7 linked regions of the Homo sapiens genome follow. Changing the gene in region 7 together with the main gene of any one other region gives a genetic interaction. Each region holds a gene or a part of one and is shown on either strand. Other genes may lie near its edges.

Region 1 (4,228 bases), on a different chromosome or scaffold from region 7:
ATTAAAAATCCCGATGTTGCAGGCTGGAATTATTATGCAGTGACTAAAACATTAAGTCAAACTGTCACCTACCATACCTTGAAAGGCAGACCACATACCAAACAAGTTGTAGAATTAGGAGAAAATGAAAGGAAAAAGAGAAGACATTGGTATATGTTGGCTAGTGTTGGAATTTACAAAAATTTCAGCAAATTCTCAAAAAAGAGAAATAACTAACTCTAGAGGTAGTCCCCCAAGCAGACTGCTACAGTGTGTACTCCAAGTTGACATAAGACTCACGAATTTGGAAATAGATTCTGTTCATTTGTAGCAGTGAACCTAGAAATCAGAAGGCCCATGTTCTAGTCCCATAAATTCCTCAAATTAACTTGGCATTTATGCTCTTAATCTCAGCTTTCTTTGGGTTAAGAATCTTGCTTCTGGGGAGCTCATAAAGTGTTAATAGAAGCAGCAACTCCTAAAACTGGTTCTAAGCTATTTAAAGAACTGGACAAAACATTTTCCAAAGAAAAGCACACTGGAAATGAGATCTTCTAAATTCTAGCCTTTAAAAATCTTTTGCTTTCCTTATGGCTTTGGCTAGGATACAAAGAAAAGTATGTTTACCCTTACTAAGGAACATAGTAAATTTAAATCATGTCTTAATGTAAAAATAAATTGTAAAAATTTCACATAACAGTAAGTAAAAGCCAAAAGTAGAATATGTGAATCGGCTGGGTGCGGTGCCTCACGCCTGTAATCCCAGACTTTGGGAGGCCGAGGCAGGCAGATCACCTAAGGTTGGGAGTTCAAGACCGCCTGACCAACATGGAGAAACACCACATCTACTAAAAAAAAAAAAAAAAAAAAAATTGCTGGGCGTGGTGGCGCATGTAATCCCAGCTACTCGGGAGGCTGAGGCAGGAGAACTGCTTGAACCTGGGAGGCGGAGGTTGTGATGAGCCGAGATCGCGCACCATTGTACTCCAGCCTGGGCAACAAGAGCAAAAGTCTCTCTCAAAAAAAAAAAAAAAATCATGAGAATCATGGAAGGTTATCTAATGCTATGATTTTTATTCTCCTCCACATGTGCTTTCACACTGAGAGGAGCCACTAGGGGAAAGGCTGAGTATGTAGAGAAAAGGCGTAATAAGGTGGTATCTCAAAGGAGGTGGAGGATTAACACTGAAAAGAAGATCCTTAACGCAGTGTTTGAGCTAACAATTTAAAAAAATTTTAAAGAAAATACTGTATAGAAGACAGAATATTTCTTCCTTGAAGAACAGAGATAAAAACATAAGAATAGGGAGAAGATGGGCAAATCCCGGCATTTGCCAATCCTGGTATTTTGCCATGTTCTTTATGCAACGTGGAAAAAATGTTAAAGAGTGTTAGGCTTGTTTGGCTATTTTTCTCATCAGGTAAGTAATTTCCTGGATGCGAAGAGCGATTTGGAAGAGCCTGAATAAGCACTGTATTTGTGGCACTAATCCCAGAATTGGGGTGAGAAGGGGACAGAATGACAAATATTTGTTGAATACTTAATAAATTCCAGGCACTATCACACAATTTACATTTCTCAAAATAAACTAGATACCATTAACCCTACTACAGTCAAGAAACTTGGGTATTCAGGTTACAGATTTATCTAAGACTCCAAGTAAAAACTGCCTGAACCCCAAAGTGTGTTTTCTTCATTATCCCACACCTCCTACCTAAGTGTGAGTAACATCAAGAGTATTCTGGGCCGGGTACAGTGGCTCACGCCTGTAATCCCAGCACTTTAGGAGGCCAAGGTGGGCAGATCGCCTGATCTGGCCAACATGATGAAGCCCCATCTCCACTAAAAAAAAAAGTCCAAAAATTAGCCAGCATGATGACACACACCCGTAATCCCAACTACTCGGGAGGCTGAGCTTATAGTGATCCAAGACTGCACCACTGCTCTCCAGCCTGGGTGACAGAACGAGTAAGACTCTGTCTCAATAAATAAATAAATAAATAAATAAATAAATAAGTATTCTGCTTTGCACTTGTGTTCACAGGATTAGAGATCTTAAAGAGAATATCTGAAAATCAAATAACAAAGAAGTTAAAGATATAGATGAGAGAAGAATTAAAGCTGCCAACACAGGGTCTAGGCAGGAGGAAGGGAAATGAAACCTTGAAGAACAATGAAATGGAAGAATATCTTGATATCAAAAAACATATATAGGCTGGGCACGGTGACTCATGCCTGTAATCCCAGCACTGTGGGAAGCCGAGGCGGGCGGATCATGAGGTCAAGAGATTGAGACCATCCTGGCAAATATAGTGAAACCCCGTCTCTACTAAAAATACAAAAATAAATTAGCTGGGTGTAGTGGCGCATGCCTGTAATCCCAGCTACTTGAGAGGCTGAGGCAGAAGAATCGCTTGAACCCGGGAAGCGGAGGTTGCCGTGAACCAAGATTGCGCCACTGCACTCTAGCCTGGGCGACAGAGTGAGATTGCGTCTCAAAAAAAAAAAAAAAAAAGCATATATATTAGAAATAAAAATAAATATTTTTTAAAAAATACAAAAATTAGCCAGGTATGATACTGTACATCTGTAGTCCCAGCTACTCGGGAAGCTGAGCGCACTCCACCGAGTGCTTGAGCAAGGGGGTTGGGCTGCAACCGTGCCACTGCACTCCAGCCTGGACAACAGAGGAAGACTCTTTTTTATTTTTTTCCCCAGACGAAGTCTCACTCTGTCGCCCAGGCTGGAGTGCAATGGTGCAATCTTGACTCACTGCAACCTCTGCCTCCTGGCTTCAAGTGATTCTCCTGCCTCAGCCTCCCGAGTAGCTGAGATTACAGGTGTGTGCCATCACGCCTGGCTATTTTTTTTTTGTATTTAGTAGAGACGGGGTTTTACCATGTTGGCCAGGCTGGTCTCAAACTCCTGACCTCAGGTGACCCACCCACTTTGGCCTCCCAAAGTTTTGGGATTACAGGCGTGAGCCACCACGTCTGGCAGACTCTGTCTAAAAAAAGAGTTGGGCACGGTGGCTCATGCCTGTAATCCCAGCACTTCGGGAGGCCGAGGTGGGCGGATCACCTGAGGTCTGGAGTTCGAGACCAGCCTGGCCAACATGACAAAACCCCGCCTCTACTAAAAATACAAAAAGCAGCCAACTATGGTGGCACACGTCTGTAATCTCAGCTACTCAGGAGGCTGAGGTAGGAGAATGGCTTGAATGGCTCGAACCTGGGAGGCAAAGGTTGCAGTGAGCCGAGATCGTGCCACTGCACTCCAGCCTGGGTGACAGAGCAAGACTCCATCTCAAAAAAAAAAATTTGGCCGGGCGTGGTGGTGGGCACCTGTAATCCCAGCTAATGAGGAGGCTGAGGCAGAATCGCTTGAACCCAGGAGGCAAAGGTTGCAGTGAGCCGAGATTGCATCATTGCATCCCAGCCTGAGCAACAGAGCGAGAGACTGTCTCAAAAAAAAGTTTAAGTCTGGTAATAAATTTCAGTATTTAGACATGAAAGAGGACTGTTACGTTGGTGGTAACTGTCTATATAGAAGGCACGGTCAGGTTCCAGAGGAAGAATCACTTCTGCTCTTGGTAGAAACACATAATGGGCAACAGGAAATGCAAAGAATGCTGAATGGTGTGAATTTACTAAGAGGCAAGAAAACAACATGAGAGTCTCCACTCACAGTCTACAAAGAGAGACAGAATTCTGTTAAAGGAAATATAGAAAATAGTCTATAAGGAAGTTATTACAGCAGGATCACAGAGAATAATGAGCACAGATGAGGGAGGAGGATGGTGGCTGGGGGATGGTCAGACAGACCTGGGAGCCAGAGGAGGACTGGACTGACAGAGGTTAACGTACAGCACCAGAAAGCACAGGGGACTCTGGGAGTATATACTTGAGGTAGTCACTGGTAAAGACTAGAAGGCAAAGGAACTTGGGAATTAAAGTGATACAGAAGGAACTGGCCTCCAAATTCTGAATGTGATTCCAAAAAACCACAGGCTAGGAGCAGTGGCTCACACCTGTTATCCCTGCACTTTGGGAGGCTGAGGTGGGAGGATCGCTTGAGCTCAGTAGTTCAAAATCAGACTGAGCAACACAGTGAGACTTCGTCTCTACAAAAAAATTAAAAATCAGCCGGGCATGGTGGCCCACACCTGTAGTCCCAACTACCCGGGAGGGCTAAGGTGGGAGGATCGCTTAAGCCTAAGCCTGGGAGGTTGAAACTACAGTGAGCTCT
Region 2 (4,228 bases), on a different chromosome or scaffold from region 7:
AGGAACATGTGGAATGAGCAGATGGCAACAGGAGACTACACTTATTTCTTATTGCTAAACAGCCCTGAGTGCATGAGAGACAGATTTTGAAGAACTGCAGAACTATCTGGTCAAAAATAAATCACATTTTAAAAGTGATTCATAGATGCTGAGGCATATAAATCATGTTTTAAATTTCTGCAGGTGATATTATAATGAATGAACTCTTCTGCTTATGCTGTATCCATCACCAACCTACAGCAATTTCAAGAGTTACTGATTAAGCTAAAAGCCCATTATGCCCACCAAGACCTTACTTTTTAAAGGAAATTCCATTTGGTTGAACCAACTTCGACTTTCTCCTGCCACCCACCTCTAATCTCATTTGCATCTCCAGTCATTCCAATTTCTTCCCTTAGGTTGCCATCAAAAGTCTAAACTGAGCACTGAACTTTCTCGTTGTATATAAATTGAATTAAACAGAAAAAGAAGAAACAAACATGCTTCCCCAAATTTGAAGCTGAATTGTCACATTAGTCTTGGAATCACTAAAATAAGATGGGCAACTGTGAAGGTATGAAAGTCACACTAACTAGAGAGGAACCCAGCTCTCCATTTCCATTTTAAACTCTGAGGAAATATGTGATGTCTCAAGTTAAACTTCTCATTTGTAACATTACCCTCCTCCTGCTCTGCCTGTCACAAAAACTGCCCTTGACAAGGTCACCAATGACCTCCCCACTGTTAAATCCATTATCAAGTTCTAACCCTTATCTTACTTGACCTACCAGCAATTTGACATAGTTCATATTCCGTCTTTGAAATAAATACTTCTTTACCTGGCCTCAAAGTCTTCACTTTTTCCTGACTTTCCTTCTTCTTCTCTAGCTTTAGTCTCCTTTCTTTCTTTTCTTTCTTTTTTTTTTTTTTTAACCTTTAAATATTGGCATTCCCACAACTTAGTCCTTAGACTTCTCTTCTCTGGCAACACTCCCTCCCTCAATGATCTCATCAAGCCTCATTGCTTTAAACCATCTATAGGTTGAGTATCCTTTATCTGAAACACTTGGGATCAGAAGTGTTTTAGATTTTGGATTTTTTTCAAATTTGGGGATATTTGTATTATACTTACAGGTTGAGCATCTCTAATCTGAAAAATCTAAAATGCAAAATGCTCCAATGAGCATTTCTTTGGAGTGTCATGTTTATGCTCAAGAGTTTTGGATTTTGGAGCATTTTGGATTGCAGATTTTGACAGTTCCCCAGTTTATTGTGTGGGATGCTTTTCTGAAATCCAAATCAGTATGTCCAGCTTCCTACTCAACATCTCCTTTTGGATAGCTAATAAGTTTCTCAAACTTGGCATGTCCAAAAGTGAGCCCCTGATCATTCCTCAATGGTGCCCCTCCCACAGTCTACCCATCTTAGTTATTGGCAACTCCAGTTTTATAGCTACACAGACCAAAATCCTAGAATCATCTTTAGTTACTCTATTACTCTCTCACACATACACATTCCACATCCCAATCCATCAGTAAACTCCACTGGCTATACCTTCAAATCATATCCAGAATCCTGCAACATCTCAACACTTTCACTACAACCACCCTATTCTCAATCAGCATCTTCCATCAGGGATAACACAACAGCCCTCTAACTGGTCTCCCTGTTTCCATCTTTGCTCCCCTGCAGTCTCAACACAGCATATAGAGTGACACTATTAAAAAAAAAAATCATGCTGTGATCACATCTCAAAATCTTCCAATGGCTTCCTGTCTCACACATAGCAAAAGCCAACTCTACATACAACTGCCTATCCTATATGAGTGAGGTGGTTGTTCTCTCCCTTGCTTACTCTTTTCCATCTGCTCTGATTCATTGGTGTTGCTCAAAGATACTAAACAGAATCTTACCTCAGAACAGTGTCCCCCACCCCAGATTCCTTCTGGCACACTCCTTTGCCCTCTTCAAATCTCTATAAAATATTACCTTTTTAGTGAAGAGTTTCCTGACCATCATAAATTGCAAAATCTACCACTCAAACTAAACACTTACAATCATTTAACATACCATATGTTTTATTTATTTATCATCTGCCTCTCCTGGTGTATGTTCTATGATGGTAAAGATCTGTGTTTGGTTTCTTCTCTATTGTATTCCCAGTGCCTAAAATTCCTTCCACATAGAAGGAATCCAAATACTTGAATAAATAAACAAACTAGTGAATGAAATATGTTTGCGTTGGTTTAAGTAAAGTTGCACCCATCAGCAAATTAAAGTATATCCCGATTTTATATGTTTTGGATTTCACAGGGCAGTTTCTTGTCAACTAGTTCTTCTATAATAATGTCAACAATTAATACAAGCCTCCTTAATCAAAATGTCATTAACATATTGTTTTTTTCCCCAGCTACAGGTTTTACCTACGCTCCTGCCTCTTTTAGTCTATCGTGACATATACACAGCAAAATATATCTTAGGGCCTATGAAGCAAATTAGCTGACATAATCACTACTACAGTCACTAAGGCCTAGTAATTAATCACAACACTGTTTCTTAAAAGTAAGTACAGGGGGCCGGGCGCGGTGGCTCAAGCCTATAATCCCAGCACTTTGGGAGGCCAAAGCTGGCAGATCACAAGATCAGGAGTTCAAGACCAGCCTGGCCAACATGGTGAAACCCCATCTCTACTAAAAAAAAAATACAAAAATTAGCTGGGCACAGTGGTGCACGCCTGTAGTCCCAGCTACTCAGGAGGCTGGGGCAGGAGAATCGCTTGAACCCAGGAAGTGGAGGTTGCAGTGAGCCAAGATCATGCCACTGCACTCCAGTCTGAGCAACAGAGTGAGACTCTGTCGTTAAAAAAAAGTAAGTAAGTACAGTGATATTTCATTCGTGTGAATTTTTTGCTCCAACTAATGGAAGTTTATACTGTTTATTTGTATTTGAAACATTTAGAAAAAAGAAGAGCCTTTAAGGAAGATAGCTTAAATGTGAAATAAACTTGAATGTGAAAACAGAAGGTAACTGGCTCACTCTATCAGTCTGTTATCACTGACATATACCAACTACCAACATTCAGAGAGAAACATGATGTGCAAAAAACTATCTTCAGTGAGCTTGTAGGGTCATAAATTACAACTGCTAAGCTGAATGGGAGACTGCATTTTCAAAGTCATGTATTTCCAGGCTGGGCGCAGTGGCTCATGACTAATTCCAGTACTTTGGGAGGCCGAGGCAGGCAGATCACTTGAGGTCAGGAGTTTGAGACCAGCCAGGCCAACATGGTGAAACCCTGTCTCTAATAAAAATACAAAAATTAGTTGGGTGTGGTGGTGCACACCTGTAATCCCAGCTACTTGGGAGGCTGAGGCAGAAAAATTGCTTGAACCGGGGAGGCAGAGGTTGCAGTGAGCCGAGATCATACCACTGCACTCTAGCCTGGGCGACAGAGCGAGATTCTGTGTCAAAAACAAAACAAAACAAAAAAACAAAGTCACATATCTCCAGAAATGTTATATTTTAAAGAGCCTACAGAATAACGCTTAGCACTTCAGAAATCTTCCCTCCCCTAAACTGACCAGTGCCCTAACATTCGTTGTTCCAACATTTTATGGCTCCCACTAACTCAAGTAATCAACAGCCAAAAAAAAAAACCCCTGTAATTTCATTAAACGTCACCAACATAGTTTGAAAAAAAATCCAATTTTATTTAAAATAGTAAATACTTCATGAATGTAATATATATGTTCCTTAATAGAAAGGAAGTAAAAATTTCCTTGGACTCACAAGGACTTTCTGAATGCAGTCATGATGTAGGATTTCTTCTTCCAACATAATTGTTTGTGTTCTTTTGTATTCAGCAAAGCAGCTTTAAGAATCAGATACAGACAAAGACAAACGAACCATATGGATGGAATTCAAATTGTAAGTTAACATTACTATCATAGTACCTGTCAGTGAGAACATGTCCTCTTATTGATGGCAGAATTTCACTGAGCTATCCATAGCTCTCAGCTGATTTTGCCTATGATCAATGGCATGCACATATGTAAGACTATTAATTCTTCAAAAAGTGCATGAATTAAATGGACAAAAATGAGAACAGAACCTACAAACCTCACTAACTCCATAATTTAATTGCCAGGCATGGTGGCTCACGCCTGTAATCCCAGCACTTCAGGAGGCCTAGGTGGGAGGATAACCTGAGGTCAGGAGTTTGAGACCAACCTGGTGAAACCCCATCTCT
Region 3 (4,228 bases), on a different chromosome or scaffold from region 7:
TAAAACTGTATTTGTACATGTATGGTGTGTACTTGTGCAAAGGAAAAGGTCTAGGAGAATATGTAAATTTAACATTGATTAACTGAAAAAGTTAAAACTTTAAACTATCAGAAACACTATTAAGGAGAACAAACCTTATGCACATATGGACGAACTAAGTCATCAAGTTTGTACAGTATCCTATCAATAACTTTCACAAGTAAATGACGCTCTTGATCCTCAAGTGTAGGAGACATCAGCAGAGGAAGAATCTGATTAAACAAAGGACCAGCTCCAAATTCACGAGCTTTATCAGTAATCTGACGCAATGCAGCCTGGGAAAAAGAGCAGAGTAATAGGTGTGGTTTCTTTATAATCAAACATTTTGAATGAGCAAATTACTCAAAGAAGATTTTCCATACTTTAATATTTTAGTGTTTACTTTTACACACATTTTACATAGACAGCATGAGTTCATTTCCATCCAAATTACTCTGGAATTTCAATTCCTGTGATAGAAATTTTATGTTAACTCAAAAGAGTAATTTAATAGAACGAACCACAGAGGTATGTACTAAATGCCTTCATTTCCCTGAAGTATCTTCCATTTCCAAGGCACATATAGTGTTAACATAATCCCTCACATAATTTCACTAATTATCTTCAAGCTTTAAGCATATTTTAAAGGCCTTAAGAACAAAAAGGAGAATCTCATTTTTCAGCATTTTTATTAGCTTTTTTAACCAAAGAATTTTGTGCTAACTCCAGCTGGGCACGGTGGCTCACACCTGTAATCCCAACACTTTCGGAGACTGAGGCAGGAGGATCTCTTGAGCCCAGGAGTATTTAAATAATAATAAAAACAAACGGCTGGGCATGGTGGTTCACACCTGTAATCCCAGCACTTTGGGAGACCGAGGCAGGTTAATCATTTGAGGCCAGGAGTTCAAGACCAGCTTGGCCAACATGGTGAAACCCCGTTTCTACTAAAAATACAGAAATTAGCAGGGCGTGGTGGTGCACGCCTGTAGTCCCAGCTACTTGGAAGGCTGAGGCACAATTGCTTGAACCCAAGAGGCGGAGGTTGCAGTGAGCCAAGACTACACCACTGCACTCCAGCCTGGGCAAGAGAGCAAGACCCTGTCTCAAAAATATATATATAATATTAATAATAAAAACAAGCAAAAAAGTTAAATCCTTCACACTACATAAATTTTTTCCCCTCATGCTATGTCCTTGATAAAGATGAAGACAGTAATTATAAATTCCTAAACACAAAAATATAACACTACCAAAAGTTAATTTTTTATGGGGAAGGCTTTCTAAATAACCTTTACCAATTTGGGCTATTTGGGAGAGTAAAGGAAAGACCACACTCCACAGCGGGCTATACCAATAGTTCACTACTATTTTGTGGTCTACATTTCCTGGTGAAAAAATTAAAAACATTTTTAAAAATATAAACATGGCCAGGTGCAGAGCCTCACACCTGTAATCCCAGCACTTTGGGAGGTAGGCCAAAGCAGGAGGATCACTTGAGACCAGCCTGGGCAACATGGCAAAACCCTGTCTCTACAAAAACTACAAATTTTTTTTAATTAAATAAATAAGCAACAAACATGACAATTTAACAAACTGGGACTTACCTTTCTCATTGGTGGTGTTCCATTCTTAATTTTTAAAAGCAACTTCATTATTTTTCTCTCTTTTTGCTCTTCTGGACTAAGTGTTGATTCATCAACATCAACCTATAGTAAAAAGAAAAAAATGTTAAGGGAAGTTGAAATGTTATGATTTATAATTCTGGAACACAATTAATAGTTTATTTCTGCTAGTATCACTTACCAATAGTTTATCAAAGTATTGAATATCATCAGGTTTTAAAAATGGAAGATTTCCAGATGGCTGGTCATTAACACTTTTCATAGTTCGATCTTCAGTTTGCATGTGGAAACCAGTCATACCACCCAAAGGTGTTGGAGTAGCTGTCAGCTTTCGAGCTGGAGTTCGAATAGGAACATAACCAGCTGGAGGAGGAAGTACCTAATAAAAGTTATAAGACAGTTTAGGATTTTCTTAACTTAAAAAACAGCATAATGAACAATATTTGCACTTAAAATATTTTAGTTTATTAGCTAATAAGGTTTTTATTTGCTTGGAGACAACATCTATCTTGCTTTTCTATCTTAATTAGAAACTTAAAATATATACTTCTCATCCACTAACTGATTATATCCGTGGTGTAGGGAACTGAGGAAACACAAGAGAAGAGCTTAGAAAATACTAATCACATTCAAACATGTTGTGGGTCAAAATGTCAAATTATTAAAAATTTGAAAATTATAAAATCTGAGTCAGCAATTCCAAAAAATGCTGTAGTCGAGCAAATAATGTTTCATAAGATTTATATAAAATGGAAATAAGCTCATATGGGGCATAAAACATAAAAAATTATATTTTAGTATTAAAATGTCACATAAATTCTTGCACTACAAAATCTTTTAAGTGTAAAACTCTACAAAAATTAGTTAAATGCATAAAAACTAAAACCAAAATGTTTGCCAAAGCCCTATAAAATACACACCACCTGATCAAACCTTTTGCAAAACGAGTAAAATTTCAAAAAATGCAGGCTGAAAATCACAAAGAAATTTTTTTTTTTTTTTTTAAAGCTGGTAACAGACTTCAAAAAAAAAAAACAACTTCTGGACAGGCCAGGATTACAGCACTTTGGGAGGCTGAGATGGGAGGAACGCTTGAGCCCAGGAGTTTGAGACCAGCCTTGGCAACATGGCAAGACCCCATCTCTATTTTATATAATTTAATATATAGTAAAAGAAAAAAAATACAACTTCTTGGAGAGGTCAATAAACCTATACACGTCTTCTCCAGTGAGCCTAAAATTGTTTTGTCTATTAAAGATTAAATTATGTTAAATTTATATTGATGCTATCTGTACTTTGCACAGATATTTTTTGTTGCTAGTTAACGTCTGCACCAGCACAGACCACTAAGCATTTTGGATAAAGTGGATACTCTAAAGATGTGAGGCCTAGAGAAATCAATGTCAAGTCCACAGGCATCACTTGCCATTAAGGATTTAAAGGTCTACTATATTTTTATATTCACTAGTAAGGACGTTGCTTATTAGTAGGATTCACTAAGGGAGACTTTTCCTCCTAGTGACACTAAGGAAATCAATGACTACGACTGAGAAAGACATGCAGGCAGTCAACAGTAAGTTCTGTCTATCTATACCCACAGTTCTATCTATACCCACAGCATTATGTGGAGGCTACAAAAAGCTTTAAGGCAAAACTTCATGCAAACTTGAAACAAATACTCTAACACAAATAACAGGGGATCAAAAACAAAACAAGGCTGGACACAGTGGCTCATGCCTATAATCCCCAGCAGTGTGGGAGGCCAATGTGGGTACTTTGAGCCTAGGAGTTTGAGACCAGCCTGGCAACACAGTGAGACTCCCGTATCTACAAAAAATAAAAAAATTAGCCAGGTATGGTAGTGCATGCCTGTAGCCCCAGCTACTCAGGAGGCTGAGGCAGGAGGATCACTTGAGCCCAGGAGTCCAAGGCTGCAGTGAGCTATGTCAGCGCCACTGCTCTCCAGTACGGGCAACACAGTGAGACCCTGTCTCTAAAACAAAACAAAACAACAAAAAACATACTCATGAACTGTTAAAAATCAATAGTCATTAACAGAAAAAGCTCTGTAAAGGCCATCAGATGACTTACAAAGTTATCTGGTTCCCCCTGGTTATGATGTCAGCTATACGACCACAGACTATCTTCAGACTAACAAATACTCCCTGAGTACCAGGTACCTAGAAAATTTTATAGTTCAAAATAAATTTTAGGTTGATATGATAAAAAGGCCAGGCACGGTAACTCACGCCTGTAATCCCAGCACTTTGGGAGGCTGAGAGGGACGGATCACTTGAGGTCAGGAGTTCAAGATCAGCCTGGCCAGCATGGCGAAACCCTGTCTCTACTAGAAATACAAAGATGAGCCGGGCATGGTGGTGGACACCTGTAATCCCAGGTACCTGGGAAACTCAGGCAAGAGAATCGCTTAAACCTGGGAGGCGGAGGTTGCAATGAGCCGAAATCACGCCACTGCACTTCAGCCTGGGCAACAGAGTGAGACTCCATCTTTTAAAAAAAAAAAAAAAAAAAAATTCTTTGTGTCCACTGACAATCCATAAACTTAAGTATATAAAATCTTGGTG
Region 4 (4,228 bases), on a different chromosome or scaffold from region 7:
GACAACATGGTAAAACCTCATCTCTACTAAAAATACAGAAATTAGCCAGGCATGGTGATGCGCACCTGTAATCCCAGCTACTCAAGAGGCTGAGGCAGGAGAATCACTTGAACCCGGGAGGTGGAGGTTGCAGTAAGCGGAGATCACACCACTGTACTCCAGCCCAGGTGACAGCGAGACTCCGTCTCAAAAAAAAAAAAAAAAAAAAAAGAGAGAAATGTTAAATAGCTGATGTTTTTTATTTAGTGAGTATAATTACGCAAGCTGTTTGTACCTTTTCATGTTCCTCAATTGTTCATTTTTTCAAACTGAGGACAGCTTCAAATATTTGGTATCAGCATGTTAATGATATCTGCTAAAACTGTATTTTTGCTGAAAAAATGTTTAATTAAATTTTGAACTAAACATCAAGACAGTAAAATAAATAGAACTGTGGGTGTTTTAATAAGGATTTACTTACGGATAGTATTTTTATCTTGTTTGATGTTTCTTTAAACCTCTGTAAATCCATGCTATCTCTGTGTCCTTTAATAGAAAAAAAGATGTTGCAATGAGAAATTTTTATTTTTCTTCACCGAAATAATGGCACTGCTTAAAGTTTATAAAAACAATAGGTTTATGCTGTTTTTCAAGTACACTTGATGGCTCTGCAGTCTCCTTTAGCTCTTTTGATAAATAAAATTGAAAATTGCCAAGAAGCTGGTGAAGGTTACAGTTTTTTTTGTTTTTTGTTTTTTTAAATTTGAGAACAAGTCTCGTTCTGTTGCCCAGGCTGGAGTGCAGTGGTGTGACCTTGGCTCACTTCAACCTCTGCCTCCCGGGTTCAAGCAATTCTCCTGCCTCAGCCTCCTGAGTAGCTGGGACTACAGGCACGTGCCACCATGCCTGACTAATTTTTGTATTTTTAGTAGAGACAGGGTTTCACCATGTTAGCCAGGCTGGTCTTGAACTCCTGAACTCAAGATCTGCCTGTCTTGGCCTCCCAAAGTGCTGGGATTACAGGCCTGAGCCACCGCACCTGGCCAAGATTATAGTTAAGTTTACAGTAACGTTAAAAGCCAAAGTCCTTATAAAACAAACCAACATGTGATATGAATAAATAGCTCGAAATTTAAAAGAAAAAAGGGGACCAAGCATTTTTACTATTAATAAAAAAAAAAGCATTACATATATACGGATAATCACTCAAAAAGGAATGATTTATTCTTATGCCTATAACTTAAACAAAAACAGAACAAAAATATTTTGGCAATAACACTTTAATGACCTTAATGAAAACTGTTCCACACATAGAGATTGTTCAGACAACATGTTAATAAGCCCATGTATAATCTCCACATTAAGACCAGTCTAGCAAGTTATTCAGGCACTGAACATGCTGATACTTACTGCTAGGCTATATGGAATTCACTCTAGATATACAGATATGTAACTTTTCCTATATAATATACATGTAGAGAAAATATATATGATATATACATACACCCCACTGGTAATACATTAACAAATAGGCTAAAATGCATTTTTAAAAATAAATTGGAAATTAGCCAGGTGTGGTGGCGTGTGCCTGTAATCTCAGCTACTCAGGAGGCTGAGGCAGGAGAATCACTTGAATCTGGGAGGCAGAGGTTGCAGCGAGCCGAGATTGTGCCACTGCACTCCCGCCTGGGCGACAGAGGGAGACTCCGTCTTTTAAAAAAAAAAAAAAAAGGGGGAATATATTTAACGTAGGAAAAGTTATATCTATGTATCTAGAGTGAATCCCATATAGCCTAGAAGTAATATCAACATGTTTAGTGCCTAGATAACTTCCTAGGCTGGCCTTAATGTGGCAATTTTCCATGGGCTTATTAACATACTGTCTGAATAATCTCTATGCATGAAAGTTTTCACTAAGGTCTTTAATGTGTTACTGCCAAAATAAACATTTTTTTTTGTTCTTATCTTATTTAAGCTATCATAGGTATAAGAATAAGTCATTCCTTTTTGAAATGTTCTCTGTGAATATATAAATAGGTACACCATAAGTACTAATTTTCCCAGTAGATTCCTAGATTTCCATTGTTGTTCTGATATAATTATTAATAGTGCACCCTTTCACTTTTAAAGTGTCTTGGTTTGGGTAAAAAAATTATATGGTCATCTATTTATAGGGCACTGTTCTTTTCCAGTTGATTCTAACCTCCCCTATGAGGTTCTCCAAGTACTTAAGAATCACTTAGGTTTTCAACAAGAGTTGATGAAACCCAATTGAAGATATTCAAATTCAAAAGACAGAACCTAAAATTCCATCAAAGAGGTTATGTGCCAATATAACTCTTATAGCCTAATTCAGTCTATTTCCCCTACTTCTGATTTTTTTTTTTTTTTCATTTCATTTCTAGAGACAGGGTCTCATTCTGTCACACAGGCTATGGTGCAGTTGTGTGATCACAGCCCACTGCAGCTTTCAGCTTCTGGGTGCAAGCAGTTCGCCTGCCTCAGCCTCCTGAGTAGCTGGGACTTCAGGCACATGCCACTGCGCCTGGCTACTTCCAAAAATTTTTTGTAGAGATGGGGTCTTGCTATGTTGCTCAGGCTGGTCCTCAACTCCTGGGCTCAAGCAATCCTCCCCACTCAGCCTCCCAAAGTACCAGAATCACAGGTGTCTGATTCTTTTTAAAAATTTTATAATTATACTCTATGAAAAGATAATGACTTGTAACAGTACATATTTCTATTATTTCTAAGGTGAAAAGTAAATAATATTGATATACAAATACGAATTTGCCAAACTTACCTACAAATGCTCCAAATTCTGTATTATCTCCTTCTGTAGCTTTAGAGCAAACAGTTTCTTGATCTTTGGTTCCAGTTTCCAAGTGGCTTTTGCAACTTGGCTGAGATGGTGTACTAACAAAAAATTTGGTTGGTGGGGATGACAGATGTGGTATGCTAGTAGATGAACTGCCTAATTTTTGATTTTTATTAAATATTTTTAAGAGTTCTACCCCATGTAGTCTCTGTCGCAGTTCTGGAGGGGAAACAGCACTTGGGAATAAGGCACCAGAAGAGGAACCAGCCTCTGGAAAATTAAATTCTTTTCTCTGGGGTACTGCAGGTAAGTCTTGACCAAATATATTACACTGGGGATCTTTGTCATCTTTCATTAAAATATTACAATGAAAAGGATTATTACTTTCAAGATCACCTTGAGGAAGAGAGGAGCTAAGTGTATTTACAACACCATGCTTTTTCCATACAGAAGGTCTTACAGGACCATCATCAATAAGGTTTTGAGCCAAGTGTTTGGAAATGCTCAGTTCTCGTGTGATTTCATTATGAACTTTGCTAGCTTCCGACGCTTTCTGGGCAGTGAGTGTTTTTAATGTATCTACCGTCAGGGCTGAAAGATCTTGCAAATGGCCAATTTGAGAATCTAATGATTGTAATGATCTTTTTATGTAGTTGACACGATCTCCAACTTCTTTAATCTGAATGCACATCTGTTCCACTCTGTAGGAGAGAAATAAGCTTTTTTTACAAATGTGAAAAAATAATGTAGAATTTTATTTTGTAGCCTCAAATAATAATGATAAAAAGAGAAAAATTTCACATGCATTTAAACAAGATATAAAATAAGGTACAGTTATTTAATTATACAAGGCCTACCTTATGTTTAAGAAGGATCCAGTGCTAATCTTATATTAAAATGCAAGATTTCAAAAAACGTTTTTGTTCCACAGGCTACTTATTCCAATTACCCCACATCAAAGTAACACAAAATAATGTATATACAGCTACATATATACAGAACTACCATTACTGTTACTGTAACTGTTACCAAACACCATATGCTTCCAGAATGTAGTGAAGCCAACAGAAAAAAAGAAATGCTGGCCAGGCACAGTGGCTCACGTCTGTAATCCCAGAACTTTGGGAGGCTGAGGCGGGCAGATCACGAGGTCAGGAGTTCGAGACCAGCTTGGCCAACATGTTGAAACCCTGTCTCTACTAAAAATATAAAAATCAGCTGGGTGTGGTGGTGCACGCCGGTAATCCTAGCTACTCAGGAAACTGAGGCAGGAGAATCACTTGAACCTGGGAGGCGGAAGTTGCAGTGAGTGGAGATTGTGCCACTGTACTCCAGCCGGGGCAAAAGAGGAGACTCTGTCTCAAAAAAATAAAAATAAAATAAATAATAATAATAATGATGATAATAAAAAATGCTGTAAAATAGTGAGGACAG
Region 5 (4,228 bases), on a different chromosome or scaffold from region 7:
GATTGTGCCACTGTATGCCAGGCTGAACGACAGAGCAAGACCGTATCTCAAGAAAACAAAATCAAAACCAAAACCAATTACTAATGGATGCTCCTTGTCCCCGGGGCGTCCTGCCAATGAGGTCGCGGCTGTGCAGCCAGATGAACGGACCACAAGCCCCTGCCTGGACCGCCTGCTCTCCGGGGCTGCTTTTCTGTGATGCTCACAGCAGCTGCTGCTCCTGGGGGACCCAGGGTTCCCTGCCTTCACTCCAGCTGGTGAAGTAAGTGCAGGGTGGGAGAAACAGTGGCCCTGGGAGGTCACCTGTCTCAATGTCCTGGAGCTGCTGTGGCAAAGCACCACAGCCCGGGCAGTTAAGGACAACAGGGATTCGTTCCTCACAGCTCTGGAGGCCGTAAGTCTGAAGTCAAGGTGGCGGCAGGGCTGGCTCCAGCTGGAGGCTGGAGGGCAAGGCCGTCCCAGGCCTCTCTCCCAGCTCTGGTGGCTGCTGGCCACTCGTGGTGCTCCTTGGCTAGCAGACATGTCACTCCAGTCTGTTGTCACATGGGCTTAACTCTGTGGGCCTCTTTCCTTTTTTTTTTTTTTTTTTTAAGACAGTCTCCCGCTGTCACCCAGGCTGGAGTGCACTAGTGCGATCTTGGCTCACTGCAACCTCTGCCTGCCAGGTTCAAGCGATTCTCCTGCCTCAGCCTCCCAAGTAGCTGGAATCACAGACATCACATCCTGTTAATTCTGTATTTTTAATAGAAATGGGGTTTCACCACGTTGGCCAGGCTGGTCTTGAAAACTCCTGACCTCAGGTGATCTGCCCACCTCGTCCTCCCAAAGTGCTGGGATTACAAGTATGAGCCACTGCACCCAGCCCTCCTTTTATCTCTTAAAAGGACACAAGTCCTTGGCTTTGGGGCCCACCCTAAATCCAGCATGTCTTCATCTCCTTATCTCTTAATCTGATCGGCAAAGACCCTTTTTCCAAATGATATCATATTCACAAGCATGTGGGATAGGATATGGACGTACCTTTTGGGGGACACCATTCACCCCACCATGCTGCCTCTGCACAGGAGTCAGCTCCCAGGAACCCCAGGTTTCTTTGAGTGAAGGGAGGCGGTAGTTGGGACACTGCCTCCGTGGGCCAAGGAAGAGCAGGATCACAGCAGTCTCCCCATGCCAGACCCTCACTCCGACCCCACAGCAGGAGGGGGCAAGGTTCCTGGGTCCCCACAGCCCAGCCCCCTCTCCCCTTGGCTGCCGCCCATGGGCGTTTGACCAACGCTGGCCTGTGGCTCAGGGGCAGGACAGGCGTGGCCTCACCCACCCTCCCACTGGGCTCCAGGGGAGATACTGGCAGGTTGCAGTCCCCAACTAGCTGGGACTAGAAAACTGATAGGATTTGGGAGGCTGAGGTGGGCAGACCGCCTGAGCTCAGGAGTTCGAGACCACCCTGGGCAACACGGTGAAACCCAGTCTCTGCTAAAATACAAAAATTAGCTGGACGTGGTGGCACGCAGCTATAGTCGTAGCTACTCAGGAGGCTGAGGCACAAGAATCACTTGAACCCAGGAGGCAGAGGTTGCAGTGAGCCGAGATCTCACCACTGCAACTCCAGCCTGGTGACAGAGTGAGACTCCATCTCTAAATAAATAAATAAGAAAACTGATGGGAGGGCCCTGCCCCCGCTGCGCCCTGGGCTGTCTTGGGGCTCTGGGTGTTGCAGAGGGCTGCTCGGTAATTGATATTTTCAGTTCTAGGTTCAGAGAGTGCCTTGTGGTCCATGAGGGCGTGTGCACACACAGCACTGTCTCTGACCCTCCCCTTTGAAGCAGGATCCATCACCAGCCCCCCACTGCTGTGCAGGTGAGGGAAACTGAGGCACAAAGCAGCAGGGGAGCAGAGGGGAGAGGCGCCTAATCTGAGGGATGCTGTGCGCTGCACGCCATGCCCCCACCCACCCAGGTTCATAACCAACAGGCCTTGAAGATGGCCCCGCGCCTCAGGCCAACCCATTCTCTGGGGCCTCACCTCCGACTCTCGTGGGCGAGGTAGTCAGCAAACATGCGCACGGCCTGGAGCTCAGGGGCCGAGGAGGGCTTGATCTCATCCAGGACCACACCGAACTTCCTCTGCAGTAGGGACGAGGCGTCAGCTGCACCCGTCCACCCCAGAGGATTTCCATGTCTTCAGCTTGGCAGGGAGAGCCCCAGACAGGAAGTCCCTGCCCCACCAGGGACCCCTCAGCCCAGCATGGGCCACCTCCACTGCAGTACACTGTGGAGGGTGGCATGGCGTCACCTGTCGTGAGCAGCCAGGTGTGCCCTCATCTGCAGGGCCACACTGCCCATGCCTTGAGCTAGGGACCCTGGTAGGTTACTGTCTATCCCCTGGCAGCTGTCCACCTCTGGTGGTGAGGTGAAGGGCGTGTCACCTGGGGGCAGGGCAGCAGCAGTTATGGGGGTTGTGACATGCGCTTCTATAAAGCAGGACATGCCCCCAGCCAGCCCTGCCCACCTACTGGCCCTCTGAGGATGCCCAGACTGATACCACTGTCACATCTGCAGCTGGGGGCCCGTCCCTCATTGTGTTCCCTCCTAGATGGTTCCTTCCCCATTTTTTTTTTTTTCGAGACGGAGTCTCGCTCTGTCGCCCAGGCTGGAGTGCAGTGGCGTGATCTCGGCTCACTGCAAGCTCCACCTCCCAGGTTCACACCATTCTCCTGCCTCAGCCTCCCGAGTAGCTGAGACTACAGGCGCCCGCCACCACGCCCGGCTAATTTTTTTGTATTTTTAGTAGAGACGGGGTTTCACTGTGTTAGCCAGGATGGTCTCAATCTCCTGACCTTGTGATCCACCCACCTTGGCCTCCCAAAATGCTGGGATTACAGGTGTGAGCCACCACGCCCGGCCTTTTTTTTTTTTTTTTGAGATGGAGTTTCGCTCTTGGTGCCCAGGCTGGAGTGTAATGCTGTGACCTCAGCTCACCGAAACCTCTGCCTCCCAGGTTCAAGTAATTCTCCTGCCTCAGCCTCCCAAGTAGCTGGGATTACAGGCATGCACCACCACACCTGGCTAATTCTGTATTTTTAGTAGAGACAGGGTTTCTCCATGTTGAGGCTGGTCTCGAACTCCTGACCTCAGGTGATCTGCCCGCCTTGGCCTCCCAAAGTGCTGGGATTACAGGCGTGAACCACCGGGCCCAGCCCCCATTCTTATTTTTTTAGAGACAAGGTCTTGCTATGTTGTCCAGGCTGGAGTGCAATGGCGTGATCACGGCTCACTGTAATCTTGACCTCCTGGGCTCAACTGATCCTCCTGCCACAGCCTCCCAATTAGCTGGGACTCCAGGCACATGCCACCATGACTGTCTTATTTTTTAATTTTTTTTTGTAGAGACGGGGGTCTCACTATGTTGCCCAGGCTGGTCTTGAACTCCTGGCTTCAAGTGATCCTCCCACCTCAGCCTCCCAAAGATTACAGGTGTGAGCCACTGTGCCTGGCTCCTACCAATTATTTTAGGAAAAAAAAAAAAATCGGCTGGGCGCGTTGGCTCACGCCTGTAATCTCAGCACTTTGGGAGGCTGAGGCAGGTGGATCATGAAGTCAGGAGTTCAAGACCACCCTGGCTAATGTGGTGAAACCACGTGTTTATTAAAAATATAAAAATTAGCCAGGCGTGGTGGCGCACGCCTGTAGTCCCAGCTACTTGGGAGGCTGAGACAGGAGAATCACTTGAACCCAGGAGACGGAGGTTGCAGTGAGCTGAGATCGAGTACGACAGAGTGAGACTCCGTCTCAAAAAAAAAAAAAAAAAAATCAAGAAGCTGTGACCCAGGCCCCCTGGCCTGGCAGTCTCAGGCCTCCGTGACACAGCCACCTTCACATGCTGGCTGCGCTGGCTGTTCACAGTCACTGAACACTGCAGGCCTGGGTCCCTGCTTTGTTTACTGTCCCCGCCACCCACTCTGTGGTGCCTTCCTGTCCCCAGCCCCACCCTCTACTCTGTTCATCACTCTTGCCCCCGGCCAAGGCCCGCACTCACCTGCGCCAGGTACGCTCTATACAGGAAGACGTCCCTCTCCACGTCTCTCTCTGGGCTTGATAGCTGTGGGAACCAATGTGAGTCAGGACGCACAGTGGGAGGCCCAGCGCAGCCCACACAGGGTGAGCATGACAGACAGGCCCCTGTACACTGGGGACAGGTGGCTTCTCCGGCAGGGTTGGAGGTCTGAGTC
Region 6 (4,228 bases), on a different chromosome or scaffold from region 7:
TTGGGAATTCTAGCCAATATAGAAAAAAAAGAGAGGGAAAAGGTATAAAGATTACAAAAGAAGGAGTAAAATGCTCTCTAACTGCAGATGACCAAGATGCCAATAAACAGAATTCTGTAAAAGGATCTACTTTAAAAAATTTACTTAAAAAAATCATTTATAAAGCTATAAATGATTTTATCAAGGTCATAGGATTCAATGTTAGTATATAAAAATCAATTATATTTCTATATACTACCAACAAAAAAAATAGAAATTTAAAAATACCACTTCACAACAGCATCAAAAAACAAATTATACTTAGGGATATAAGAACATTAATTTAAGAAAAGATGTGTAAAACCTCTGCACTGAATCTACAAAACACTACTGAGAAAAAAATAAAAAACCTAAGTAAATGAAAAAGATCACCATATTCCTGGATTACAAGATTCAATATTATCGGGATTTCAATGTGCCCCAAATTGAAGATATTCAATACAATCCCAATCAGAACACCCACAGACTTATATAATGCAAAAAATCTACAATAGCCCAAAGAATCTTGAAAAAGAAAAAAGAATCAAAATTGTAGGTCTTACAATACCTGACTGCAAGACTTAGCATAGTTTTAGTAATAAGGAAAGAGGTAGTGATATAAAGAAAAATATAGGCATACCTTTGTTTTACTGCCCTTCAAGGAAGTCTATTGGAGCCACTTCTCCAATAGTATGTGATCACTTTGTCCTTGTGTTACATTTTAGTTATCCTTGCAATATTTAAAACTTTTTAATTATCGTTATATCTGTTATGGTAATCTGTCATCAGTGATCTTTGATGTTACCATTGTAGTTGTTTTGGGACACCACGAACCACACCCATATAAAACAGCAAACTCAATCAATAAATGTGTGTGTTCTGACTGCTCCACACACCGGTCATTCCCCCATCTCTCTCCTTCTCCTTGGGACTCCCTATTCCCTGAGACACAACAATATTGAAATTAGGCCAATTAATAACCCTACAATGGCCTCTGAGTGCTTAAGTGAAAGAGAGAGTCCCACATTTCTCAGACACAGATATCCAGTGAAAGAGCGGGCTAGGGGGCTGCCGGCATATACAGGCACAACTAAGACACACAAATGTTTTTAGTAAGTGATCTAAACGTGTAAAATACAGAAAAATAAAATTTTAATACCATATCAATTTGTACAGAATGCAAATTTCTAATACTATAGAAATTTGTGTATTTAGTTCTAATAAAAGCATAAAAAGCTGAGAATGTTCTTTACTTTCTAAATATCTAACCCAGATATATCTAACCCAAATATCTAAAAGGTAGCCCCAACCTATCCCCACCTGTTTTTTTAAATTTACTTGATTAAATAGTACACATGTTGTCTGGTAGGCCCTCCCTACGAGATAATCACTTCTATTTCTTTCCAGAAGGGTCAATTTCTTCGGTTTTCCTTACTACACCCAGCACAGTACAAAACAGAGCAACAGCCTAATAAGACTTTACAATCTATGAAAGCTAGTGGCAAAATTTATTCTTAGAATATGCTTCCTATAAATATTCTACCTGTCCCCAAAATGAAATAAAGATTATTCAATTAGTTTTGATGCAGAAAAAGGTACTTATACCTGTCTTTCTCTGATCCCGGAACAGTACCCGTATTAGTGGATCCAGGCACAGAAGCAATAGGGGTGCCAACAGTTCGAAGATTCTGGATTACAGATGACAAAAACTGCTGGCTAGCACTTTCATACAAATCAAAACAAATCTGATATGCCATCAGGAGGTTGTCTTCCTTTACCAGTTTCTCTAAGATATCACTCACAGCCTGAGGATCATCTAAGAAAATTAAGCACTGAAATGGAGATAAAGAACAATTATTCAATAATTAAAAACTTCATCTACAAGGTACTTAAGGAGACAAAATCAACATTATAGAAAACCTTAAAATATAAGCACAGGCAAACTAGGGCAGACTATCCAGTCTAGCACTCTATTTCTAAACCCAGCACTAGATGAAATTTTTCTAAACATGGCATCTGTCTTCCATAAAAAAATTCATACAAATTATATTTATAACTCTTAATGCTGTGCCTGGTAATCAGCAGTATTCAACATTGGTTGTTGAATGAATCTTGGCTTCTTTAAATCTTATCCATAAGTTATACCTAAGTGCTCCTTAATTTGTTATTTTCTCCCTTACCATATATTATGGAAGTTACTCATTCATTTAACATACATTGTGTTGTGTTGGGCCAGGACAAGAGACATTAAAATTACCATTTTGAAGCATTTCTCTTACTACTCTTATGATCTGCCATTGTTTTAACAAAATTATCCAACAAAGTTAGAATTTTTCTTTTAAAAACTCAATTTAAATTTTCTTGTTCCCTTAGGCAGCAAGTAACTCAACTTCAAAATAAACACATTAATCAAAGTTATTATAAATTAAGAACACGAAATAACACAAACAAAATAAGTGGTCAACAATAGGGGAATGATTAAGTAGGGCAAAGTACATACACTGAATGATTACAACAATCAAGTAAGAGGACTCTATGAAGAATTAGAACATGGAAAAATGTTAAAGACTGTATACAATTAACACTGTTTATCCACAGAGAAAAGAACTTGGTAGCTGGAGCCAAGTAATAGGAAGACTTCATTGTATACCCCATCATTCTTTTTGAATTTTAAATCACATGAACATATTATCTGCTCAAAAATATATTATTTTAAAAATGAGCAATAAAGTTTTTAAAAATAATAAAAAGATAAGGAATAAAACAGCTGAAAGAAATAAAATTGCCTCTAAGGAATAAAACTGAAATACAGACAGGAAGAGGGCAGGGAACTACTATTTTTCATGTCAGTTTTAAAAAAAACTATGAAAAATATTTACAAACAACAAAACTCCGAAAACCTATGTAGAGAAAACTGAAAGGAAATACACTATTAAATACTAAATTGACTTTGGGTGATGTAAAAAATCAAGTTAGAATAGTAAGTTGACTTTGGGTGATTTAAACATGGATATTTTTTCTTCTAGTATTTTGTTTCAAACTTGCTTTAAAAGGGATTGTAAAAAACAGTGTTTTAATCTAAATTTTCAAAGTCTAGAGGATTAAAATACACAGGAGCACATTTTAATGAAGAAACAATAAAATGTGCAATAAAATGCTATGCCCTGAGCAGAATACAAAAAATGTATACAACATAGCAATTGTTAAAAAGTAAACCCATGCACACCTCCAGTCAATAAAATACAATACAGTCATTAAAAGAATGCAGTAGATCCACATGTGTGAATAAGTAGGGAAAAACATCTATGTCTTACCTTTGGGAAAAAGCCCAAATGATGGGAAAGAGAAGCCTTACTTTTCATTTTATATATTTTCTGTACCATCTGAATTTTTTTTTATGTGCAAGCAAATTTATATATAGAAAGAGATAAAGAAAAGATACCCAAATGTTTTGGTGTGTATGGGTAATGAAACCATATATAATTTATACACTTTGAATTCTCTTTAGAATGATATAGTATAGCATAGGCACTGTTTTAATCTTCTAGCTTTTTAAAAAACCTTCGTTATTTCTAAAAATTTCCTTAAATTATTGGATTTTCAAAATGAAAAAAGAATACAAAGAAAGAATGTGTTACAACAAAATAGCTTTTTAGTGTTGTGAGATTTAGTTTCTTATTAATAAAAAGGAATATAAAGCACATACCTTATTTTCACAGGGCTGCTGTGAAGATCAGCTGAGATACATGTATAAAGCCATTATAGTAATATAAAGTAATAAAATGTGAAGTGGTATAGCATAGCACAGTACAGCGTGGAGCAATGTAATGAAACATAATTTAATGTCATTACCTGACAAACATTGATGAAATCAGGTTTCTCCAAGTTCATGTAGATTTTAACTAGAACTCTTAGTACTTTATTCCGAAACTGTTTATTCTGCATTAAAGACATGCAGAGCTTAAGGCTATAAGCTAACATTCCTGGGACATCATTCTGAAAGAGATAGTTTAAAGATATAACGTTATCTGGTTATTGCAGCATTATATTTATTTAGAAATTGAATTATTTTAATCTTGCTTCTTTAGCCAATCTAGGAAGCCAATTATTTAGACCTCTTAAGCAATACAAACTCAAGAATTTTAAACCATTTTAGATGAAAATCTTAAAAGAATTACATATTTCCACATCATCATAAAAAATGGATTAA
Region 7 (4,228 bases):
CATCCATCTTGTCTGATGCTCCCAGCTGCCCTGGGGTTGCAGGAGAAAGACTGTATCCCCACTCTAGAGGGCCAGAGTGACTGAGCCAGGAGAGGAGGGGGCATTAGAGCGCTGCAGCCTGGGCAAGCTGGCCATTCCCAAAACTGCCAAGGAGCCCTGTATGTGGCCAACTTTCTGAGAGCCTGGCCTCATTGGGTCCCTCAGTTGTGTGTATGTTCAGGGGTGGGGTTTCTGGGGTCCCTGTGCAGCCAGGGCAGGTGCCTCCCCAGCCACCAGGTTGGGGTCTGGGTGGACCACCACAGAGTCTGGTACAGAGGCCTCACCTGCTGCAGGAGGCGGATGCGCATGGCCCGGTCAGTGGATGAGAACATCTTGACCACCACAGGGATGATCTTCTGCTGATACTCCTCAGCGCTCAGGAACTTGCCCACCTGAAAGGGCAGGAAGATGGGTTCAGCTGCTCACAGGAATGGGCTGACTTTGCTGGGCTTATCTAAATTCCTGGGGCTGATATCCCAGGGTGGGAATGAAGTGATGGCGGAGGGGGGGGCAGGCATTTCCTCAGTAGCTCCTCTACCCATATTCCATCTCAGCCTTGCCCTTAACCTTTCTGGGCCAAGGCCTCTTTCAGGAGGCTGATGAAAGCTCTGGGCCCCTCCCTACAAACAGGTACCTTTATGCCATATGCAGAAATTCTGCCTGCAATTTCTGGGGGTTCTCAGCTATACAGGACTTGCTTGTTGTCTTCTCCCCTCCTGACAAGTCTTTCAGATGAAAGGGTTCTCCCCAAGGTGAGGAGGGCAGGGAATGCCAGGTGCCCATAAAAAGGCGGGCTGGGGTCTGAGGAAAGGGTGGAAGATCCAGCCCCCAGAAGTCAGGTGAGCTGAGTGCTAAGCAGTCAGGAGGGAGGAGGGCAAAGTGGGGTGGTGAGTAGGTAATCCCCTGGGCCCTGGGAACCAAGGTGCACAGGTCAGACCCGGAGAAATGGAGGAAGGGCTGAGGGTTGTGAAGCCAGAGGTTTGTGGAAAAAAGGATTTTAGCGGCAGAGTCTCTCCTCCCCAGGGGACAGCTGGTCAGGTACCTGTTTATAGACACTGGCAGGAAGCTCCTGCTCATATGGGCTTGGGTCTGCCCTAAACAGCCTGCCCTACCCCAGGGCCTTCTCTTTGGCAGTTCCTGTGCACCCAGCCAGCCTTCTGGACCCCACAGTTCCACTCACCTTGAAGAGGGGCGTGAGGACAACGGCCCCAGCATTGCCGAACTCGAAGGCGGTCAGCAGCTGGGGCAGCACCTTGTGCCGACAGAAATCCTCAGGGAATGCGTCCAGGCTCTTGCTCAGCTCCTGGAAGAATTTTTGCTTCTCGGCTGGCTCTTTGATCTGGGGGAGTGAGGACGGGACCCGGGGAAGAGATCAGCCTGGTTGCAGCCCAAACCCAGCCATGGGTGAGGACAAGGAGAAGTGATGCTTATGGGCCTTATGGGCTCTGGAGCCTGGCTGCCTGGGTTCAAAGCCCAACTGTCCCACTTACCTGCCATGTAAAATGGGATAACAGCTCTACCATCTACGGGATAGTTCTGGGATTCAACCAGAAAATGCACATAAAAGCTGCAGAACAGGCTGGCACACGGCAGATGCTCGGTGGGTTAGGGACTGTTGCTGCCATTGCGGCTACCTGACCTGTTGCTGGGAGAGCAGCCACTAGGGACAGCAGAGGCATCACTAAGGGCATCAGGCCCTTTATCAGTGTTGCCTCTACTGCTCGCCACCCAGGATGTGAGCACAGAGGAGGAAACTGAAGATCAAAGAGGTGAAGGGGCTTACTTGGTTTCCCTGCCCTGGCTGGATTGGGCAGGAAGTTCCTGGTAGGCCGTGGGAAGGCAAGGATTAGGTACACTTTACTCCCAGACCTCATCCTCCCACTGAGCCAAAATGGACCAGCCTGTAAGCTCAACGGTCTCCTTTAGTCCTCCTAACCCCCCTTTGAGGCCATAATACCCCCAATTCATATTTCTGGAGCACAGATTATGTGCTAAAACCTTTACACAGATTATCTCAGTCCTCTTCACAACTTTACCAGGTAGGTGCTAATGTAATCCACATTTTACCAACAAGGAAGCTGAGGCACAGAGAGGGCAAGGAGCTTGTCCAAAGTCACACAGCTAAGAAGCGGTCAGAGGAGGGTCTGACTCACTGGTTTGGCACCTCTCCTGTGCTGTACCCTTCAAAAGATGCTGTCACTCCCCCCATTCACAAAGGAGGAGACAGAGGGTCAAGGTCAGCAGCCAAGAGTGGCCAGGCAGGGGTCATGACCCAGTGTTGTGTTCCAAAGTCCCTGTGCTCTCTGTTGTACCACCACCCCCATAGCCGCGGCTTGGCCGGGGAGAGGCGACCTCTGGCTTGGGACAAAGAGGACCTAGATGGCCCTTGAGCAGCTCAGACCAGCGTGGGAGGCCGGCTTGGTGCTCTGATCACATGGTTCAGCGGGGCCAAGGCCCAGAGAGGCTAAATCACATCCAAGGTCATACATCAAGAGAGTAGCAGCTGGGTTCTCCCCACCACTCCACCTAACAATGGGAAGAGGGGCCCCTGGGCACTGCCCTCCCATGTTCTCCTGGAGGCTCCCGAAACCCTATTTCCTATGGGGTACACTTTAAGGAGAAGGGTAGCTTGGCAGAGCCAGCCGTACGAGGAGAACTCCACGTAACAAAGTTCCTGCTGCCCCGACACTGCCCAGGAGGCAACGGGGTCTCAGCGTTTCCAGCAGCTTCTCCTTCCAGGTTTCCACCCTCCAAAGGCCCTCCCCGCCCCACAGCATCTGAGTCAAGATTCCATGACCTCTGCTGGGTCAGGGTCTGTGGAGTGTCTGCCACTCTCCTCCCCTGCTCCTGATTCTGATTCTCAGCCCCCGCTGTCTTCCCCACACACGGCTGGGGCCGGGCATTGCATAGAGCAGAGCCTTCCTCCCTCCTCCCTACAGCAACCCTGCAGGCCAGTGCACCCAGATGCTCCTCACTATACACATGTGGAAACCAAGGTTCAGAGGCAAAGCAGAGGGCTCCCTCCTCAGTATCTCTCCACGTGCTGTCGCCTCTGCCTGGAACTCTTACTCCAGGTACCATCCCTCTGGCTCCCACAGTCATGTCCTTCAGGCCCCAGCTCCAATGTCACACTTCAGAGAGCCCATCCCTGAATACCCACTCCAGTACTTTCCTTCCTGCACTGGATTTTTCTTTTCTTTTTTTTTAAGACTGAGTTTTGCTCTTGTTGCCCAGGCTGGAGTGCAATGGTGCGATCTCGGCTCACTGCAACCTCCTGCCTCCCAGGTTCAAGCTATTCTCCCGCCTCAGCCTCTGGAGTAGCTGGGATTACAGGTATGCGCCACCATGCCTGGCTAGTTTTTTGTATTTTTAGTAGAGACGGGGTTTCTCCATGTTGGTCAGGCTGGTCTCAAACTCCTGACCTCAAATAATCCGCCAGCCCCGGCCTCCCAAAGTGCTGGGTTTACAGGCGGGAGCCACCGCACTGGCTGGTTTTCTTATTTATGGTGTTCTTTTGTTTGTTTTGAGACGGAGATTTGCTCTTGTTGCCCAGGCTAGAATGCAATGGCACAATCTTGGCTCACTGCAACCTCCACCTCCCAGGTTCAAGCGATTTTCCTGCCCCAGCCTTCCTGAGTAGCCGGGATTACAGGCATGTGCCACCACTCCCGGCTAATTTTTGTACTTTTAGTAGAGATGGGGTTTCTCCATGTCGTCAGCTGGTATCGAACTCCCGACCTCAGGTGATCCACCCGCCTCAGCCTCCCAAAGTGCTGGGATTACAGGCGTGAGCCACTGCACCTGGCTCTTATTTATGGTTTTTATGTTTTCTGTCTCTTCCCCAGCAAGAGTTCCCAAGGTTGGGGATCTGGTCTGTTTACTTTTTGCTAGATTCTTGAGGACAGTGATCTAGGTCCGCCTCACCTTCCTCCACACCGTGCTGCCCACCCCCCTGCAGCCAGTACAGGGTGTTACACCCCTGGGGACCAGAGCCAGAATGTACACGTGGAGTGACTGGAGTAACCAGAGCTGGCCCTAAATGCCTGCTGGGCACAGAACACTATACCACACATTTTCAATTCTGACTCCTCACTGGGTCCCTTTGAAGTAGGTACAGGTTGAGTCTCCCTTGTCCAAAATGTTTGGGACCAGAAGTGTTTCAGATTTCAGATGTTTTTTGGATTTTGGA

Evidence for each region.
Region 1: changes in SCYL1 (region 7) and METAP2 together harm fitness more than expected from each alone (negative genetic interaction), as found in Homo sapiens cells (one large-scale study listed by BioGRID).
Region 2: changes in SCYL1 (region 7) and WDR7 together harm fitness more than expected from each alone (negative genetic interaction), as found in Homo sapiens cells (one large-scale study listed by BioGRID).
Region 3: changes in SCYL1 (region 7) and SF3B1 together harm fitness more than expected from each alone (negative genetic interaction), as found in Homo sapiens cells (one large-scale study listed by BioGRID).
Region 4: changes in SCYL1 (region 7) and TRPM7 together harm fitness more than expected from each alone (negative genetic interaction), as found in Homo sapiens cells (one large-scale study listed by BioGRID).
Region 5: changes in SCYL1 (region 7) and COPE together harm fitness more than expected from each alone (negative genetic interaction), as found in Homo sapiens cells (one large-scale study listed by BioGRID).
Region 6: changes in SCYL1 (region 7) and PSMD1 together harm fitness more than expected from each alone (negative genetic interaction), as found in Homo sapiens cells (one large-scale study listed by BioGRID).

What each region holds. Positions count from the first base shown.
Region 1 is NC_000012.12:95,504,564-95,508,791, reverse strand, and holds part of METAP2 (methionine aminopeptidase 2), read right to left. Parts: intron 1-4,228. UniProt on the Homo sapiens protein: Cotranslationally removes the N-terminal methionine from nascent proteins. The N-terminal methionine is often cleaved when the second residue in the primary sequence is small and uncharged (Met-Ala-, Cys, Gly, Pro, Ser, Thr, or Val).
Region 2 is NC_000018.10:56,657,341-56,661,568, reverse strand, and holds part of WDR7 (WD repeat-containing protein 7), read right to left. Parts: intron 1-4,228.
Region 3 is NC_000002.12:197,403,451-197,407,678, forward strand, and holds part of SF3B1 (splicing factor 3B subunit 1), read right to left. Parts: intron 2,023-4,228; coding exon 1,825-2,022; intron 1,728-1,824; coding exon 1,626-1,727; intron 1,405-1,625; exon of another isoform or gene 1,268-1,404; intron 315-1,267; coding exon 135-314; intron 1-134. UniProt on the Homo sapiens protein: Component of the 17S U2 SnRNP complex of the spliceosome, a large ribonucleoprotein complex that removes introns from transcribed pre-mRNAs.
Region 4 is NC_000015.10:50,589,132-50,593,359, forward strand, and holds part of TRPM7 (transient receptor potential cation channel subfamily M member 7), read right to left. Parts: intron 3,496-4,228; coding exon 2,780-3,495; intron 526-2,779; coding exon 461-525; intron 1-460. UniProt on the Homo sapiens protein: Bifunctional protein that combines an ion channel with an intrinsic kinase domain, enabling it to modulate cellular functions either by conducting ions through the pore or by phosphorylating downstream proteins via its kinase domain.
Region 5 is NC_000019.10:18,908,949-18,913,176, forward strand, and holds part of COPE (coatomer subunit epsilon), read right to left. Parts: intron 4,099-4,228; coding exon 4,036-4,098; intron 2,124-4,035; coding exon 2,023-2,123; intron 1-2,022. UniProt on the Homo sapiens protein: The coatomer is a cytosolic protein complex that binds to dilysine motifs and reversibly associates with Golgi non-clathrin-coated vesicles, which further mediate biosynthetic protein transport from the ER, via the Golgi up to the trans Golgi network.
Region 6 is NC_000002.12:231,069,811-231,074,038, reverse strand, and holds part of PSMD1 (26S proteasome non-ATPase regulatory subunit 1), read right to left. Parts: intron 4,015-4,228; coding exon 3,871-4,014; intron 1,851-3,870; coding exon 1,624-1,850; intron 1-1,623. UniProt on the Homo sapiens protein: Component of the 26S proteasome, a multiprotein complex involved in the ATP-dependent degradation of ubiquitinated proteins.
Region 7 is NC_000011.10:65,527,779-65,532,006, reverse strand, and holds part of SCYL1 (N-terminal kinase-like protein), read right to left. Parts: intron 1,379-4,228; coding exon 1,220-1,378; intron 432-1,219; coding exon 324-431; intron 1-323. UniProt on the Homo sapiens protein: Regulates COPI-mediated retrograde protein traffic at the interface between the Golgi apparatus and the endoplasmic reticulum. Involved in the maintenance of the Golgi apparatus morphology.